2 separate regions of the Homo sapiens genome follow, and region 2 is linked to region 1. The links come from fine-mapping of genetic effects on plasma protein levels. Region 1 holds a variant in brackets. A gene starts in the other region. All regions are shown on their forward strands.

Region 1 (8,335 bases):
TCAGAATAGGATTGCATTGATCCAGCGGTGTGAAAATCATTATGGAGTGGTGTTTTCACACAGGCCTCTTCCTTTACTTTATTCTGAACTACATAAATATCAATTAAAGCTTTCTAGTCCAAGTTAGCAGATGGCGATTTATGTCGGACTTATAAACAAAGCCCCAGAACATTACTATACCTAATTGATGAATGCTCTCTCCCTTTCCTGAACAAAGATTTTGGCCTCCAGTGTGGTTGTCTGAGAGAAAATTAATGAATTCTTTTCTGTGGTCTCATGTAGAAAGGCTCCCGTTTATAGAAATATTTGACTTTTTCCCCCCCAAAAAAGAAAACTTGAATGCTTTTAAGTTGCCTAGTAATTTAAATTCCCAAAGATGGACTGGAATAGTATTTGGCATTAACATTTACCTAAAAAATTATATTTTCGGCTTACAGCAGAATGATGCCTCAAAACACAAAATAGTAATCAAAATAAAGCACACAGAAAAGTGGAATGTGTTTAATTATTATAACTTTAGGTAGACATCCAAATTAGGGCTCATATTTTATTGTTGTTTTTAATTATTTCTATTTATTATTATTATTTTTTGAGATGGAGTCTCCCTCTGTCATCCAGGCTAGAGTGTAGGGGCCAATCTCTGCTCACTGCAACCTCCATCTCCTGGGATCAAGCGATTCTCCCGCCTCAGCCTCCCAAATAGCTGGGATTACAGGCCGCCGCCACCATGGCCTGCTAATTTTTGTACTTTTAGTAGAGATGGGTTTTGCCATGTTGGCCAGGCTGGTTTTGAACTCCTGACCTCAGGTGATCCGCTTGCCTTGGCCTCCCAAATTGCTGGGATTACAGGCATGAACCACTGCACCCAGCCAGAGCTCATATTTTAGACTCTTTTTCTGTGAACTCTTTTCTTTCGACTTGTTGTTCTTTAAGGTGAGATGACACTTTGTACTAATTCTTAAAATGAACCCTTCCCTCAATTTGAAATATGTGAAAATAGCTGTTTTGTACTATGGACCTGTAAGTGGCGTCTTGTGGTTTAGGGGCTGTTGCAATGTCCACCTCCAGTGGAATGTAGGTCGCTGCATCAGAAGAAGGTAGAGGAGCCAGGCCTGTGACTGCAGAATGTATTCCTTACCTTTTGTTTGAAAATAGTAAATTTCATTTGTGAAACAAAACCTGCCTTTTCTTTTTCATCCTAGCTTCTTTGAAATGAGCAGTAGGCTGATCGGGGGTAGATATTCAAATATACTGAAACATTAAGGTTGCTGTAGATGAGAAAACAGTGGTACTTTGGTTGAGGGCAATCTGCACTAAACACTTTGACTTTAATGATAGCTTTCTGCCCGCTGCCACCCAGGTGTCTTTCTTGTGCTCATTGGTTTGAGGGTGCATTCCTCAAATGAGAGGGGCAATTCAGGTAAAAGTTTTCAATGTTCCTGCCCAAGGCAGCCTGCTAAAGGAAGTTCTCTTGGTGATGACCATCACATGATTGCCACGGGAATGTGTTTACTACACGATCTGTTGATACAGGTAATAAAGAACACACTGATGACTTTTCCCCACGTAATCTCTGAGGTCGGTATTTTAGTAACCTTTGAGATAATAATTTAACTCACGCCCTATAGAAATTATGTATGCAGTAGGCCCTTGGTAGAGACTGACATTTATATAAGGTCAGTGTTGGTTGACCTAGTTTGATCTGGCCCTAGATTTATAAATGAATGAATGATCTCCCCAGAATTAGGAAGACATGACATCAAAAATATGAATTCATCATTACTGTAAAAGTTTAACATGCTGTTAAACTGTAGCATGTTAGTGAGACGAGGCCTCAGTATCTTCTGCTGGTTGGGGAAAAAAAATAAATGTGTATTAAGTCTCAGGAGCCTGCGTGGTCCTCATGCTTGTTAAATCCAGAATGGGTCTCTCCCTTTCTCCAAAGATGGAGTTTGGCCTTGGTGGGATTCTGTGTTGGGAGCTGCAGTCCCAGATGCTTCTGCTAGTTTAATAGAAGAGATCAGGAAGAACAAACTGGCAAGTGAATTGGACAGATACAGACCCAAAAGACTTCAGATAATTGGAAAGAAATTTTGCAACCAGGGCATTTCTGCCATCAAAACAGAGGTATCTTGCAATGATTCTTGTGCTGGCTGTTGTTGAGGTCTTACTTTAGCACTGGGGATGGGAGATAATTCCCGTATAGCCATAATATGGGAAATCACCAGTATCCTTTAAGATGACAAAATTCAAATTCTAATAAAGACAGGATTTGGGACATTTTTTAAAGAGAGGTGCTGGGTGTGGAGAGGGAGGAAGTCTGGTTTCTGATAAGGGCTTCTCCTCATTTTACAAGTCTGCTTGTCATGAGAGAAGTATTATTCCTGGAAATGAAAAACATGGAGGCAGAAAATCCGTTTCTTCAAAAACAGATAGTGGATTTTTGCACTGCCAACCTAGCTGTTGATCTGTCAGTCTTGGTAACTGAAACCCTATGAGGCTGCGTAACATCTCAGATGTTCAGCTTCAAATCTGAGATCACAAACAGGGTCCTAAAACAAAAAGTTTGTTAAATGCCCAGTCAAGAAAATGGGGCTACGGAAAAACTCAAAACAGAAAAATAAGGTTTGTCTTACAAAATGTTCATACTGCATTCTTAGACCTAGTTGCTAATGACAATCAGTTACCTGAATTATAAAAAAAAAGGGGTACTACCCAGTTTCATTAATTGCCTTGTATCCAGGGCTTTGAAAGGAGATTGGATATTTCATGAATTGATTTTTGAAACTGAGTGTGGTCCTGCTATTAACCATGTCTTGGGAGTTCCCACCCTTGAAGGCATCTTCTGAAGCTTAGAATTTTTTCTTTCTTTTTTTTTAAGAGACAGAGTCTTGCTTTGTCACTCAGGCTGGGGTGCAGTGGCATGATACTAGCTCACTGCAACCTTGAACTCCTGGGCTCAAGTGATCCTTCTGCCTCAGCCTCCCAAGTAGCTACGGCTGTAAGTATGTATTACCATGCCTGGCTAATTTAAATTTTTTTTTTTTTCTAGAGATGAAGGGTCTTGCTATATTTCCCAGGCTGGTCTTGAACTCCTGGTCTCAGGCAGTCTTCCTGCCTCAGCCTCCCAAAGTGTTGGGATTACAGGTGTGAGGCACTGTACTAGGCCTGAATCGTTGAATTTTTGACTCTAGTCTTGAAGGGATGGAACCTGCCCTTCTAGTGTTGTTTCACTTTGGGATAAAGCCCAAAGGCTCAGAGCTCACCTGTAATCTGGTGGTGGTAGACTGATGTGTGTCCATCATGGGTTCAAAGTTGATATTTACTTAGTAAAAACCTGCCAGGCCTCAGATGGGAGTTAGATGGTGAATCTCCTCTCTGTGTCTGTTAAGGGCACCTCATGTGTTTCATGTAAAATCCTTGTAGAGTAGATTCTCTGAATCCAACTGTTAGATTGTTTCAAGTGTTGGACTCATTTTCCTTATAGTAACTTACTTAGGAATTCATGTAAGTTAAGGACTTCAGCTGCTTACGTTGTTTCCCATTGTTTGGAAATAGTTAATGCACTCTTAAAAATTGATTAACTGACCATCAGTGTGTCATGCTAGTCTAAGATTTTACTTTAACAATTGATATATAGAGATTGAAAGTTGTGATGTAGTAACTCTATTTTCCCTAAGATTCATCTATTCGGTTGACTTTTTTATCCCAGTACTCTCTTCAGGATTGATCATAGGTATTGATTGGCACTAGTGGTTTACAGATGTAAGAACTGAGAGTTAGATTACCTTTTGGATTCTCCCACTTAGCAACTACAGAAATTTGCTTCTGTCTTACTTTACTTCTGTAATCATCACTGTTTTCTCCATTAATCAGAAATGTAACCTTGGTGTCGGTGGCATTTCTTTTGTCTCAGTAGCTCTCTGATTTTTGTTCTCTTTTTTTTCTTTACAGAGCACAAAACTTATTGACATGAGCCTGGAATTTTGAAGTAAGGGCAGTCATGCTAATATTGTGATTTTCCATATTTGTGCTTTGTATGTAAAGTGACTGTTTTTAACATTTTAATTTTAATTATTATGGGTACATAATAGTTGTATATAAAGTGACTCTATTTTGAGTTTTACATTTTACAGGATAAAACCTTAAGATTAATTCCATACATACATTTCAAAATAAGGCATCGACTTGATAGAAAAGTTTTCTTTTTCCTTAGATCGATAATATGCTGAATACACTTTTGGATGCAGAAAATAAAATTCTGAGCAGTATTATAAATTAGAAGATTGAATGGCTCTGTTGGTAAGGTTAGTAACAGGTGACAGATTTGGTATTCATACCTGTTTGTCACTCGTCATACCTTTTGGCAGTTATTCTTCAGAGCAGTTAGATTAGTGCATTAAGCATTTGGTTTTAAGAAATGTGCTTCAAAGTGAAAGGTAGTTAATGCTTACCTAATTGACTAAAAAGAGCTTTTATTTCTTTTAAGGAAAATAATTTCCTCTTGTTTTATATTATCTGGGCACAATGGCTGAGTGAAATTAATTGTTAACTTGAAGCACATTTATTTTCTATGGATGTGAATATTCCCAGAGTACATTTGACACTTTGATAATACTTAATTATGGATTAGGTTCACAATTCTGTGTGATATGTTGAGATGCAAGTCAGGGGAGCCTATTACATTTATAAAAGTTCAGTAAAAAGAAACTCATCATTAAGGTGGCAGGAAATAAGGATATAGTTTTGGCATTTGAATTCTTTTGTGTATATGAATTATTTTCCTCATCAGTCTCATTCATTAATGTGGAGGTCTGACCAATATATGTTTTCATAAACATTTTTTCCTGTCCCCAAATAATGTGAATAAACTTAGCTTTATTCCTGCCTGACCCAGTCATTTACTTTCTATGGACAAATAGTATTCCTTGTTATTTGCAAGGCTGATGTAACGACACAGCTGCTGGATGCTTGGCATTTCTGCTTCTGGTGAAATGCTCTTTGTGCAGATTTATCTGATCCAGATGTGTGACCAGCAAGCTACATTTCTAATTATA[A/G]GGACAGCCAAATTCCATTATAAGCACATCATGGGATTATAGGGCCGGGAGTCATCCTGAGAGGACATCTAGTTCATTCTCCAGCCGTTCAGCAGGACCACACTTTGTAACCTACTCCAGCACTGAACGAAGCAGCAAAGAATGTTCCACCCATGTATAGGCTGAACGTGGAATCACTGGAATTGTAACTGGAAAAAGAGACAAGTCCCTCTGGTCTGGCCCTCTTGCTTTGTGGGTAAACAGATTCAGGCCCAGAGAAGTTTGACTTAATGTGGATTTTTATGACTCTTTGCCTAAAACTTACTCTTCTTTTCTCTGAAGTGGTCTGTGCTGAGGGAGTGAAAGGGTAGAAGACTGGATTGGAAATGCCAGTTTCACATCCAGATGTAGCTCTCTACTCATTTAGAAGTAAGAGGTACTGAATTAGTGACAGCTAGATTCCATTGAAGTTTATTAAGTATTTCTGAAACCCAGTATGAAGTACGATATTTCATGTCTGTATATATGTTTGTGTGCCTTAGTGATAAAGTACAAAGGAAACTAGGCATGCTGTTAGGGTTAGAATGTTTGCAAGTGTGGTGTGTAAGCTTACCAAGAACAACATCTCAGAATAAATAAGTGATTATTTAACTTGATTTGATGTTGTTGAGTCTGGGTTTTGATTGTACCCTACTTCAAGTGATAGTTAGCCTGCCACAGTTTCATGGATGCTGGGAGAAGACAAGGGGTTCCTGTACCACAGAAAAAGGACTGTATTACTCCTGACATACCAAATAGTGTAAACTCTTATGCTTAGGGCTTACTGGCATGCCTATGTTGGTTCGTCCTTGCCTCCATGTCCCACAGGGGTGATAAGGATGGAGCGTGCAGATGGAGCTGCACACACTTTGGGTTTGCGTTGCTGCTGAGGAACACTGAACTCGGAGAATCTGCTGCTTTTATAGCATGCAGTAAATGAACTTGCTCTTTGTTCCAAGGGGGAAGATACTACCTCATCTGTCTGTTCACATTGCTCACTGCAAACATAACTTTGAGAAATGGCCTTGATACAAAATGGCAGGATATGTAGAAGCATGAGAGACCTATGGAGGGGTGTCTCAAAACCATCATGTCCTATAATTGGGACAATCAAATAAAACACTTCACTAGCAACTTCACAGAGAATACAAGACATCAGGTAGTTGTTAGGAAGCAAATTCATAATGAAAATGGTAAGTGCTGGATAATTAGAGTGAAGATGGGTAGAAAATATAAAGAACTTGATTTCTTCTGTATATTGACGTCTTCTTACGATTTCAAGATGTGGTCAGATTATAATAAAAAAATACTAAAAGAAATCAGGAATTATAAATCTTGTTTCTACACTGTTAAATCTATTAATCTTTTTGTGAAATGAAAGTATAGTAGCCAGGTGGACCCAGGCATAGGTTTAGCTCTGTTTCTTAACTGCATTGTGACCTTAGTTTATTTTTCTTTTTAATTGTGAAAGTTATTTATATTCTTAGTAAAGGAAATTTTTTTTTTCAGACAATAGAGAGGTATAAAAAAGTAAAAGCCTCTCCTAGAGTTCATGGAGGTTGCCACAGTTCTGTGGCCTTTGGATCAGTCAACATCAGAATGGAAGGGAAACGTTAATGATTTTAGTGGCTACTTGTTACTTCTGAAGGATCAAAGGGCTTGGGACGTTTACAAAGTATTCTGGGCTGGGTGCCGTGGCTCACGTCTTTAATCCCAGTAGCTTGGGAGGCCAAGGTGGGAGGATTGCTTGAGGCCAGGAGTTTGAGACCAGGCTGGACAATGTTGCAAAACCCTGTCTCTACAAAAAAATAAAAAAAATTAGCTGGGCGTGGTGGTGCACGCTTGTAGGCCCAGCTATTCGGGAGGCAGAGGTCGGGGGATCACCTGAACCTGGGAGGTCAAGGCTGTGGTGAGCTGAGATGGTGCCACTGCACTCCAACCTGGTGACAGAGTGAGACCTTGTCTCAAAAAAAAAATATGTATATGTATACACACACACACATACACACACACACACGTATATTCTGAATCTCTGGAAAGATTTATGAGGCAGTATTATGCTTCTACCACTAAAATAGTGTTATTATTTTCACTTTTGTTCACTCAAATATTTAGCTAATGGTTGTCTTCAACGTAAGTTGGGGCTACATAGATCAGGCAACAGTATCTTTATTTTATGGATAACGAAACTGAGACATTCAAGGTTAATTTGTCCAGTTACATGGTTTGGCCGTATTCGGCTTCTTATCTCCTTAGAAAAGATTTTGGCCCCAAATAAAACTTTCATAAAGTAGGAGACTATGTAGTTAGTGCACCTGATTTCAATTACTCTGTTCTGTTTTTTAAAATAGTATGTATCATTTTCTTGCATACTACATAATTTACTTATTATGTTCATTGTTTCTTTCCCCTTACGAGAATGTAAACTTAATGAGAACAAGAATTTTTGCCTTTCTTTTTTTGTCTTGGGCACTGGTGAAGTTTCAATTTCTGGAACAGCATATTAATGCATAGTGGGTTCTCCAGCTCCATAGTAAATTTGGTGATGAAATGAATCAACATGTGGTAAATACGTGGTGCTACAAGGTGATGAGATCATCTCCTTGATCTTAGATTATGTTTTCAGCTTTGAGCAAGTGGTGGGACATCTTGGGATGATACTGCTTACCTCATTTGATTTGATCAATGAGATTGAATTTGTAAAGCTGGGCTTCAGGATATGGCCTACAGATTTTTTTGCGTTTGGTTTTGTAGAGTGTTTTAAAAACTTTGCAAGCAACATTTAAGAACTAAGGGATTTCACGTAAAATAAGATTTCTAGCTTTTTTGGTTTGTTTGTTTTGTTTTTTTCTTTAGAAACTGAAAGATCTGACAACATGGCCTGCATTCCTATATGGTTAGTGAAGGTCTTGAACTAAATAGCAGCTCACTGTTAAGAAAGGGCATTTGCTCTCTAGTTTACCACAGTCCCCCTGACTCTCTGTTAACTCTTGATACCGAAGCTGAGTTGTCAGTTGCTTTTTCCCATCTTTTACATTCTTTAATTTTTAAATATGAAGAAATATTCAGCCATGTTTTTTGAAAGGAAATAAAGGAAAGGTCAACCACTTCACTCATCGACATTGCCTCCATGGCCCTTGTTAGGCAATTGAAACTTGGAGCCCCTTGATGTGTTTATCTAAGACCTCTGCTTCTTTGAGGTCTAGACTTTTTATGATTATGGTTATGATTGCTGATGGTATGCAGAAGAGAAGAGATAG
Region 2 (8,335 bases), not on the chromosome of region 1:
TGCTGGGATTACAGGCATAAGCCACCATGCCCGGCCTGACTTCTTTTTTTAACTTCAGATTCTATTAATAAATGTCAAATGTAAATCTGATGGGAACAAATATTTTTATAAAGCATATCAGAGTTATGGATAATTATAAAAAAGGTGAAATACAAATAAAGCATTTCATAGGAATTTCCCTTGCTTACCTCATCCTGTTTTCTAAATTCCAGATAGAAATTCATCAGGTTTGGCTGGGCTTCATGGTTCATGCCTGTAATCCCAGCATTTTGGGAGGCCAAGGCATGCGTATCACTTGAGGTCAGGAGTTTGAGACCAGTCTGGCCAACATGGTAAAATCCCATCTCTACTAAAAATACAAAAATTAGCTGGGCATGGGTGGTGCATGCCTGTAGTCCCAATTACTCAGGAGGCTGAGGCAGGAGAATGAATTGAACTCAGGAGGCGGAGGTTGCAGTGAGCTGAGATCTTGCCACTGCACTCCAGCCTGGGACAGAGTGAGACTCTGCCAAAAAAAAAATTCATCAGGCTTGACAAAAAAGCCTCTTAACCTTTCACACTCATTATGGGCTTTCTTCTTTCAGAACACTTTTTTTTTTAAGTAGGATGTCATTGATTGGAAGAACAATCTTTTAACAAAAGGAATCCAAGTCTGTTCCAATCCCACAGGATATTTGAAAAACCACTAACCTGAATCATTCCAGAGACTGCAGGAGAGGAGTGGAGCCTCTCCCGGGTGTAGCCCAATCCTTCCTGGTTCCCTTTCTCTAGAGGCCTAGCTACATTCCAGTCCAGCCACTCACAGAAACAGGAGCAAAGCAATGGGGGAACAGAGGGCTTGAGAATGTATCCTAGCTGTCTCTGGGATTTCAGGGCAGAGTACTGCTTTTCTGCATATACCTCAGTTTAACCAACTGTTCCAAGAGCTATCACCATATAAATGCTTTATCTAGTATTCATGAAGTTCTCTCTGAAAAAAAAAATTAACGTATTTTCTTTTCCTTTTCTTTTTTTGAGAGAGTCTCACTCTGTTGCCCAGGCTGCAGTACAGTGGTGCCATCATAGCTCCTTTGCAGCTTCGAACTCCTGGGCTCAAGCGATCCTTTCACCTCAGCCTTCTGAGTAGCTAGGACAACCAGCAAACCACCACACCTGGCTTTTTTTTTTTTTTTTTTAAGAGATAGGGTCTCAGGCTGGCAGCAGTGGCTCACACCTGTAATCCCAGCACTTTGGGAGGCCGAGGCCTGCAGATCATCTGAGGTCAGGAGTTTGCGACCAGCCTGACTAACACGGTGAAACCCTGTCTCTACTAAATACAAAAAATTAGCCAGTTGTGGTGGCGCATGCCTATAATCCAAGCTACTTAGGAGGCTGAGACAGGAGAATCACTTGTACTTGGGAGATGGAGGTTGCAGTGAGCCGAGATCGCGCAATTGTACTACAGCCTGGGTAACAAGAGCGAAACTCTGTCTCGAAAAAAAAAAAAAATAAAAGGGTCTCACTATATTGCCCAGGCTGATCTCAAACTCATGGCCTCAAGTGATCATCCCACCTCAACCTCCCAAAGTGCTTGGTATTACAGGCATGAGCCACCACACCAGGCAAGACAGTTCATCATACCTTATGATATGTCTGCGAGAAAAGCATCTAAAGTCTTAACACAGGACTGGTTCCTAATCAGCCCAGAAAAATGAATTCCGATTTTCAGTTTTGCTGGTACTAAAATCTCGGGAGGCCTTTCCCCTAGTCTGAAGTCTAGTCACATTCCTGCCCTTTTTTCCTAGATTCAGATTTAGATTCAGAAACTCGGGGATTCGGGTATTTTTACCAACAACAGAAAAAAAATTTTTGTATTTTTATCTTCTGTACCAGGACCCACTGCAAGAAAAATATACTGTACCCTGGTATATACATATGGAAAACTAAGAGAAGTTTTATTAAAGTTGTATGAAATAATACTTTACTCTTGCAAAACACATGCAATGCATCCCGGTATATTTGTTTTGGTCTATCTTAATTCATTTTAAAAATTAATACCAGTTGTGACCCACTAAATTGATTTCATGATCCCATTAATAGGTTGCCTACTGGAGCGCTCTGTCCTCTAACTCTCCTGGGATGGGAGAAATAAAGAGATAAATTATAATTATGTTGAATGCCTTGAGGCAGAATGGAGTTTTCTTCATGAAGTCGAAGGAAGTGGTCCTCTAGGGGTCACAACTTTTGGGATTTTTGTTATAGAGAATGGTGTGAGCAAAAATTACCTAAAAAGCTGAAAAACCAAAAAATACCTTTTGGGTTTTGCTCAGTTGTGCCACAATTTCACCTAGGATTGACATGACTTCTTTTTTTCTAATTTTTTTTTTTTTTTTTTAGTCAGTTCCACTCTGTTGCCCAGGCTGGAGTGCAATGGCATGATCATGGCTCACTGCAACCGCAGCCTCCTGGGTTCAAGCCATTCTCATGCCTCAGCCTCCTGAGTAGCTAGGACCACAGGCATGCGCCACCATGCCAGGCTAATTTTTTTTTTTTCTAGAGATGAGGTCTCCCTGTGCTGCCCAGTTTGGTCTCAAACTCCTGGGCTCAAGCGATCCTCCTGCCTCAGCCTCCCAAAGTGCTGGGATTATGGGTATAAGATGACTTCTTATCCTGTCTTTCATTTTTCCACTGTTACATGAATTAAGGAACGCTTTTTGTAAGGACTAGTAAGCATTTTCTGAGTAAGATAGGAGATGTGTAAAGAAAAATGAAAACAGAAATGGTCATAGAGGATGTCTTGGGAAGGTGTTTCAGTAGTTTAAAAACACACACACAAGAAGCTTTTATGAATGGGATAATAGGATTGTGGAAACTGGTGAAGTTGATCCTATTTCTCACACTTTGGCAATGCATCTCTTTGTTGTAGGAAATATTCTTTTTTTTTTTTTTTTGGCAGCGATAGATAAGCAGGAAGGATTTTTTAACTCTGTTCATCTAAATTTTCCTGATAAGAACCCCAACAGAGCCGCTATCCAAGGGTTCACCTACCTCCTCGTTGACTATTGACCCCCAGGGGTATCCAGTCTATAGCAAAGGAAGAGAAAAGAGATGTGAGTGACTGCAGCTCTATACCTCGTAACCCTTTTATGAGACAAATCAGAAAATCATGGAGAAATGGTTATACTTTATCTTTGTGACTTATTCCTATATAGCTCAATATAAAATTACTGAGACCATTAGTGCTATGAACAAAACCAATAGGAATAGAAAGACTTCAGAAAGACAAGTTCCTTCACTGCTGTGCATTTGTTTGGTAAAAAGAAAAAAAAGACAAGTTCCTGAGAACAAAGCCCTGCTGCCCTCTTACCCTCATTCCTGGCCAGGAATGAAGTCCAGCTCCACTGAGAGGCCTGGCAGCCCTTCTAGCCCCACGGCTTCCCCGCTAGCTATGCTAGTGAACAAGACAGAAGAATTATTTTTCTCAATCTGTATCGGAAGAAGGAGGGAAAAAAATAGAGTAGGACATCTTTACAGCCTAAAGTTCACTTTCTGTGGCCAGTCTTCTAGCCAGATTCTGGGAAATCTGTGAAGATCACTTTTCTCTTGTGTGTCAGTATGGCATATATTTTTTGCATGCATGTGAGTATACCTGCATGCATGATGGTAATAGTGTATGTATTCCCACTGTTCTTCTTCAAGATTTACATTTGGTCCAGTTTCTTTTTTTCTTTTTTCCTTTTTTTTTTTAATGGAGATGAGGTTAACTCATCTCACTATGTTGCCCAGGTTGGTCTCAGTGATCCTCTCCACTCAGTCTCCCAAAGTGCTAGGAGTATAGGTGTGAGCCCACCATGCCCAGCCCAGGTCCAGTTTCTTTCTAGGTAGTCCCTCCTCTATGTTTGTGTATGCATTTGTATATCAGCTTCTTTTTTGCTTTGCAATTTGTTTACTCATATGTGACCCTCTTTGGGTGGTTAATATGCATTTGTGTGTATCTTAGTTGCACCTTAGTTTCATAATTCTTGGGAGGCCTTTCCCCTAGTCTGAAGTCTAGTCACATTCCTGAACTTTTTTTCTTAACACAAAATCTGTTCTTCTAATAGGAATTCCAGAGCTCAATACCAAGCATCTCTACTGCTATTCCTCTTCGACCTCATTCCATCCCATCTCCTGCCACACACGTGTATAGCTGAGGAGCTGAGGGTTTAGGGAGCAAAGAATAAAGGACTCACCAGAGGTGATGATGAATGCAGCAAGAAACAGCAGCACCTTGGGTCCCAAGAGCGACATATCTATAGGGGTGGTGGGCATAGCAGAGAATGTGATGCTCAGAGGCACATCAGCATTTCAGTGCCAGGGAAAGATGCCTCTGAGGTCCCTGTCTCTTTGTCTTCCCAGAACTTTCTTCATTTTCCCTTATGACTCAAACCCTTTCTCTCTTTTCTTACCTTTCACCCAACATTCATTTCTCCCTCAAATCTATTCCTTGGTCACTTACCATTATTCTTGCTTTTATTATTCTCTGCTACCAAGTCAGAGGAAATTTTACATTCTACATGGTCCGTACTTGGCCCTACCCTTTGGCCTCTTTCACCCCTGATGTGGAATCTTCCTTTCTCATATGCGTGACTTTTTCATATCATCTGCTCATCTTGGCGTCTCCTTCATCAGAATTCCACGGTTATTTGGGAGGTCTGCTCAAGACTAAGTTCAGTGACATTCCCCATTGCCCCCTCCAGCCCTTTCACACACACACAGACATACACACATTCCCTCTGTCTCTTTAGGGTTTCAGGTAATCAAATAACTCACTGTCTATGGTGTTCTGCTCTTTCCACCGAGTCCTTTGGCTGCTGAATGTGTCTCTCTCCTCTTACGCTGTTCCTACTTTGGCTGGCGAATAAGATGAACAGAGCCACTCCCTGGAAAGGACTTCAGATTTGGCCTCCGCTGAAACAATGAGATGAGGGAGAGCAAGAAAGCCAGGCTAGGCGTAGAATGTGTGTTACAATGAGGCTGGAATGAGAAGGGAGATGGGAATTTGCAGTTGCTCACACCCTCATTCCAAATGTTATGACTACACTGGTGAGAGCTCTTGCTGCTCCCTGGAAGTGTTGGCCCCAGCTCATGTATTGCCTTTCTTCCATTAGCCTATTTTCCCTCCTCTCACGATCTGGTCCCAGCTCCCCTTTGTTCCTTGGGTTCTTTCTTACCGAAAAGTTCCGTCTCCTCCTTGGTGTGTTTTAATGCACATTATAGATGCTGTTTCTCTCTCTCTGGCTATCTTCTTCTTCTTTGTTTTTTGTTTTTTTTTTTTAAGACAGAGTTTTGCTCCTGTCACCCAGGCTGGAGTGCAATGATGTGATCTTGGCTCACTGCAACCTCCGCCTCCTGAGTTCAAGCAATTATCCTGCCTCAGCCTCCTTATATTCCATATTTGAATCATTCCTTCATCCTTCTTTCTCACTTTCTTTTTCAATATTCGTCTCTTCAGCACTAACAAATTTCTTTTTATTCCTGTATTTCTTTTTCATCTCTGCCTCTTTCTTGACCTACACATTTAGACTCTTCTTGTTTTTTTTCCCCTTGGAATATCCTATGTATTCTCACAACCAAGCGAACACAGATACCTTATGAGTTTTGTCCAAGAGGAAGGCTGGCTACCTTAGGGTTATAAAAAGTTGAGGAACTTTTCAGAACTCTCCAAATCATTTTCAAATGTAGAGAAGCTCTGTGAAAGGGGTGCCAGCCTTACTTTGTCTTTTGGCTTTGTTTGAGCTTAACTAAGAATCTGGGTTTCTGGGCTCTTAAGGATAAAATGCAATCAGATGCCCAAAGAAAATTGAAAGGCAAGGTTATTATGCTTGCCTCATTTTCTACCAATATTTTTCCTTAGATCATATAATGTGTAGATAACACTTTCTCTGATCCAGGATTTTTTCTTTTTTTTAAGATAGGGTCTTGCTCTGTCACCCAGGCTGGAGTACAGTGGCATGATCACAGTTCACTGCAGGCTTGACCTGGGCTCAAGTGATCCTCCTGCCTCAGCCTCCTAAGTCGCTGGGACTACAGGTGCATGCCACTATGCCAGGCGAATTTAGATGTATTTTTTTGTAGAGACAGGATTTTGCTATGTTGCTCAGCCTTGATTCAGGAATTTTAAAGGCTTTGTATTTCTTCTTATTCACAGAGACTCTAGTGGTTCAACCACTAAAACATTCCCGCTTTGGATTCAAGAGCAAACTTGAATTACAGAAACTCAAGTCTGAGGAATGGTGGACCTTGTATGCCATAGAAATATGTAAGTTTCAGGTTTCCTGTTGGCTCCCCTTTAGTCTACATTATATATCTCCCTGATGAAATAAATTAGAGAAGAGTACAGGTAGACAGAGAGCAGATAGTATTAATAAATTACATACTAGAAGAAAATAAAAGGGGGTATGATGGAAGGAAGGAAAGAAGGAAAGAAGGAAGGAAGGAGTCTAGTTGAGAGGAAAAAAGAGCAGTGGACACAGAAATAAGCAAATCGCACTTTGTAAGCACCTCTGGGACCTCCGAGGGAGCTGTAAGTGCTACATCTCTAAGATACATGGAATCTGGTCAGTCCGCAGAACAAGCTGAGTGCTACGCCCAGCTCTTCCTGATCTTCCTGCCCCAGAACTTGCTCTTCTTCCATCTGCTCCCCAGTGAAGGGGCTGAGACTAGAAAACAGATGTGATTCTAGTCTGAGGAGAGTCAGGGGAAGAAAAGGGTGTTGGGAGAAGAAACAAAAAAGCAGATGCAAAGCAGGACATAGCTAAGGCAGGACATAGAATAGAGAGCCTAGAGCAACAATCAAGTTTTCCATGAAGCTCAGACAGATGGAGACACTGAACTCAGGCCAGTCATTTGGCAGGGAGAGCAATGACCTCAATGTGCTGGCCTGGCTAGAGGCTATAGTTTAGGAGAGCCTCCCCAGGCAGTGGGAGGGGGCGTTCTCCTGGGGTTGTAGGAGGTAGTCTGGAGTTGGGGCAGTGAAAATAGGAACAGAATGTTCAGAGCAGGGCTGAAGAAGAGAACAGGCAGGGAGTAGCATCCTAGAAGGAAAGGAGAGGTAGTGAGACAGGAACTGGCAGAAGAGCAGGACAACCATATATTGTTGGGTTTTAAAGACTTTTGAGAATGCAGTTTGTTTCAAGGTTGGTTAGTTTCTTTTTTTTTTTTTTTTTTTTTTTGTGAGATAGAGTCTCGCTCTGTTGCCCAAGCTGGAGTGTAGTGGCGTGAACTTGGCTCACTGAAACCTTCGTCTTCTGGGTTCAAGTGATTTTCCTGCCCTAGTAACTGGGATTACAGGCATCCGCCACCAGGCCCGGCTAATTTTTGTATTTTTAGTAGAGAGGGGGTTTCGCCATGTTGGCCTGGCTGGTCTCGAACTCCTAACCTCAAGTGATTTGCTCCCCTCAGCCTCCCAAAGTACTGGGATTACAGGTGTGAGACACCACACCTGGCCAAGGTTGGTTAATTTTTTCATGGCAACTATGGCGGGCCCTTTATTCTACTACAGTTCCCCATTTGTTCTCAGAGCCCAGGTTTGGATCCCCAGGCTTAGAGATCCTCAGATTTGCTTTTCTCAGGGTGATTTTGTCAGCCTCTGTTGCATTGTACATTAATTAATCATTTAATGACATCAAGTCAAAATCAGCACCAATGGTCAGAAACGAGCAAATGCCATCCAGAGTTACAAGTCCATAATTTTCTGGGGTTCTTTTTGACTCACTGAGTAGCAATCCATACTTCCATCCCATATAGGCTGGATCTCCTGAGGGTAGACAACACATTCTCCAGCAATAAGAAAGCCCCTCATGGGACTGACTGGCGCGTGTAGAAGTGACTTAATGAAGGCAATCTATGTTTGAGTTACCCAGGAAAATTTTCGTTTTTATAAAATGTCTGTGAAAGATGGGCAAAGGGCAAAGAAAGAGGAGAGAGACAGAGATGCGAGATGTCAAGCTGGTTTTATTCATCTGTTTATTGGCTTGTAAAGAATACACCCATTAGCTGAAGGCCTCTGGGCAAATGTACAGAAACGTTATTACTACAGTCCCATCCAACTAAATTAAACCCAGGAGCTAAACACACACACAAAAAATTTCCCATAAAAGGAAGGAAAAGAAAGGGGGAAGGTTATATGAGGCAGGGAGGGCAGGGAGAGGGAGTGGTGTGTGTAGAGGAATGAAGCAATGAAGTAGTAACAGCCAAACACAAAAGATGGACTTAGATGCCAAAAGACATATGTCCTTAGAAAACTGAAGCTAGGGAACACTTGTTTGTCCATCAAAATCCGGCCTAGATGTCGCCTCCTGCCAGAAACCTTTCC

Alleles and levels. Alleles are on the strand shown, and positions count from the first base shown. The strength of an association depends on the size of the effect and on how common the allele is.
With allele G in place of A in region 1, the plasma level of the protein whose gene starts at base 4,991 in region 2 is higher (weak association).

What was found. A credible set is the group of variants that fine-mapping cannot tell apart. PIP is the posterior inclusion probability: the model's chance that the variant is causal. Protein levels are from antibody-based Olink assays in UK Biobank. Linkage for the fine-mapping came from a reference panel and not from the study's own genotypes, which makes the PIPs less certain.
Region 2: MFAP5 starts here. The variant in region 1 is the best candidate, but not a certain one, in a credible set for the plasma level of the MFAP5 protein (UK Biobank, PIP 0.89).

Annotation. Positions count from the first base shown.
Region 1 is chr3:172,077,409-172,085,743 of GRCh38, forward strand. All of the region lies in intron 1 of FNDC3B (fibronectin type III domain containing 3B), which reads left to right. Among named protein-coding and RNA genes, the nearest start is that of FNDC3B, 42 kb to the left of the region's middle. The variant A/G (reference allele first, on the strand shown) is at 5,058.
Region 2 is chr12:8,657,836-8,666,170 of GRCh38, forward strand. It overlaps MFAP5 (microfibril associated protein 5), which reads right to left and starts at 4,991. Exons shown (of 10, transcript NM_003480.4): 1 at 4,792-4,991; 2 at 4,212-4,271; 3 at 3,028-3,063. The coding sequence starts at 4,269.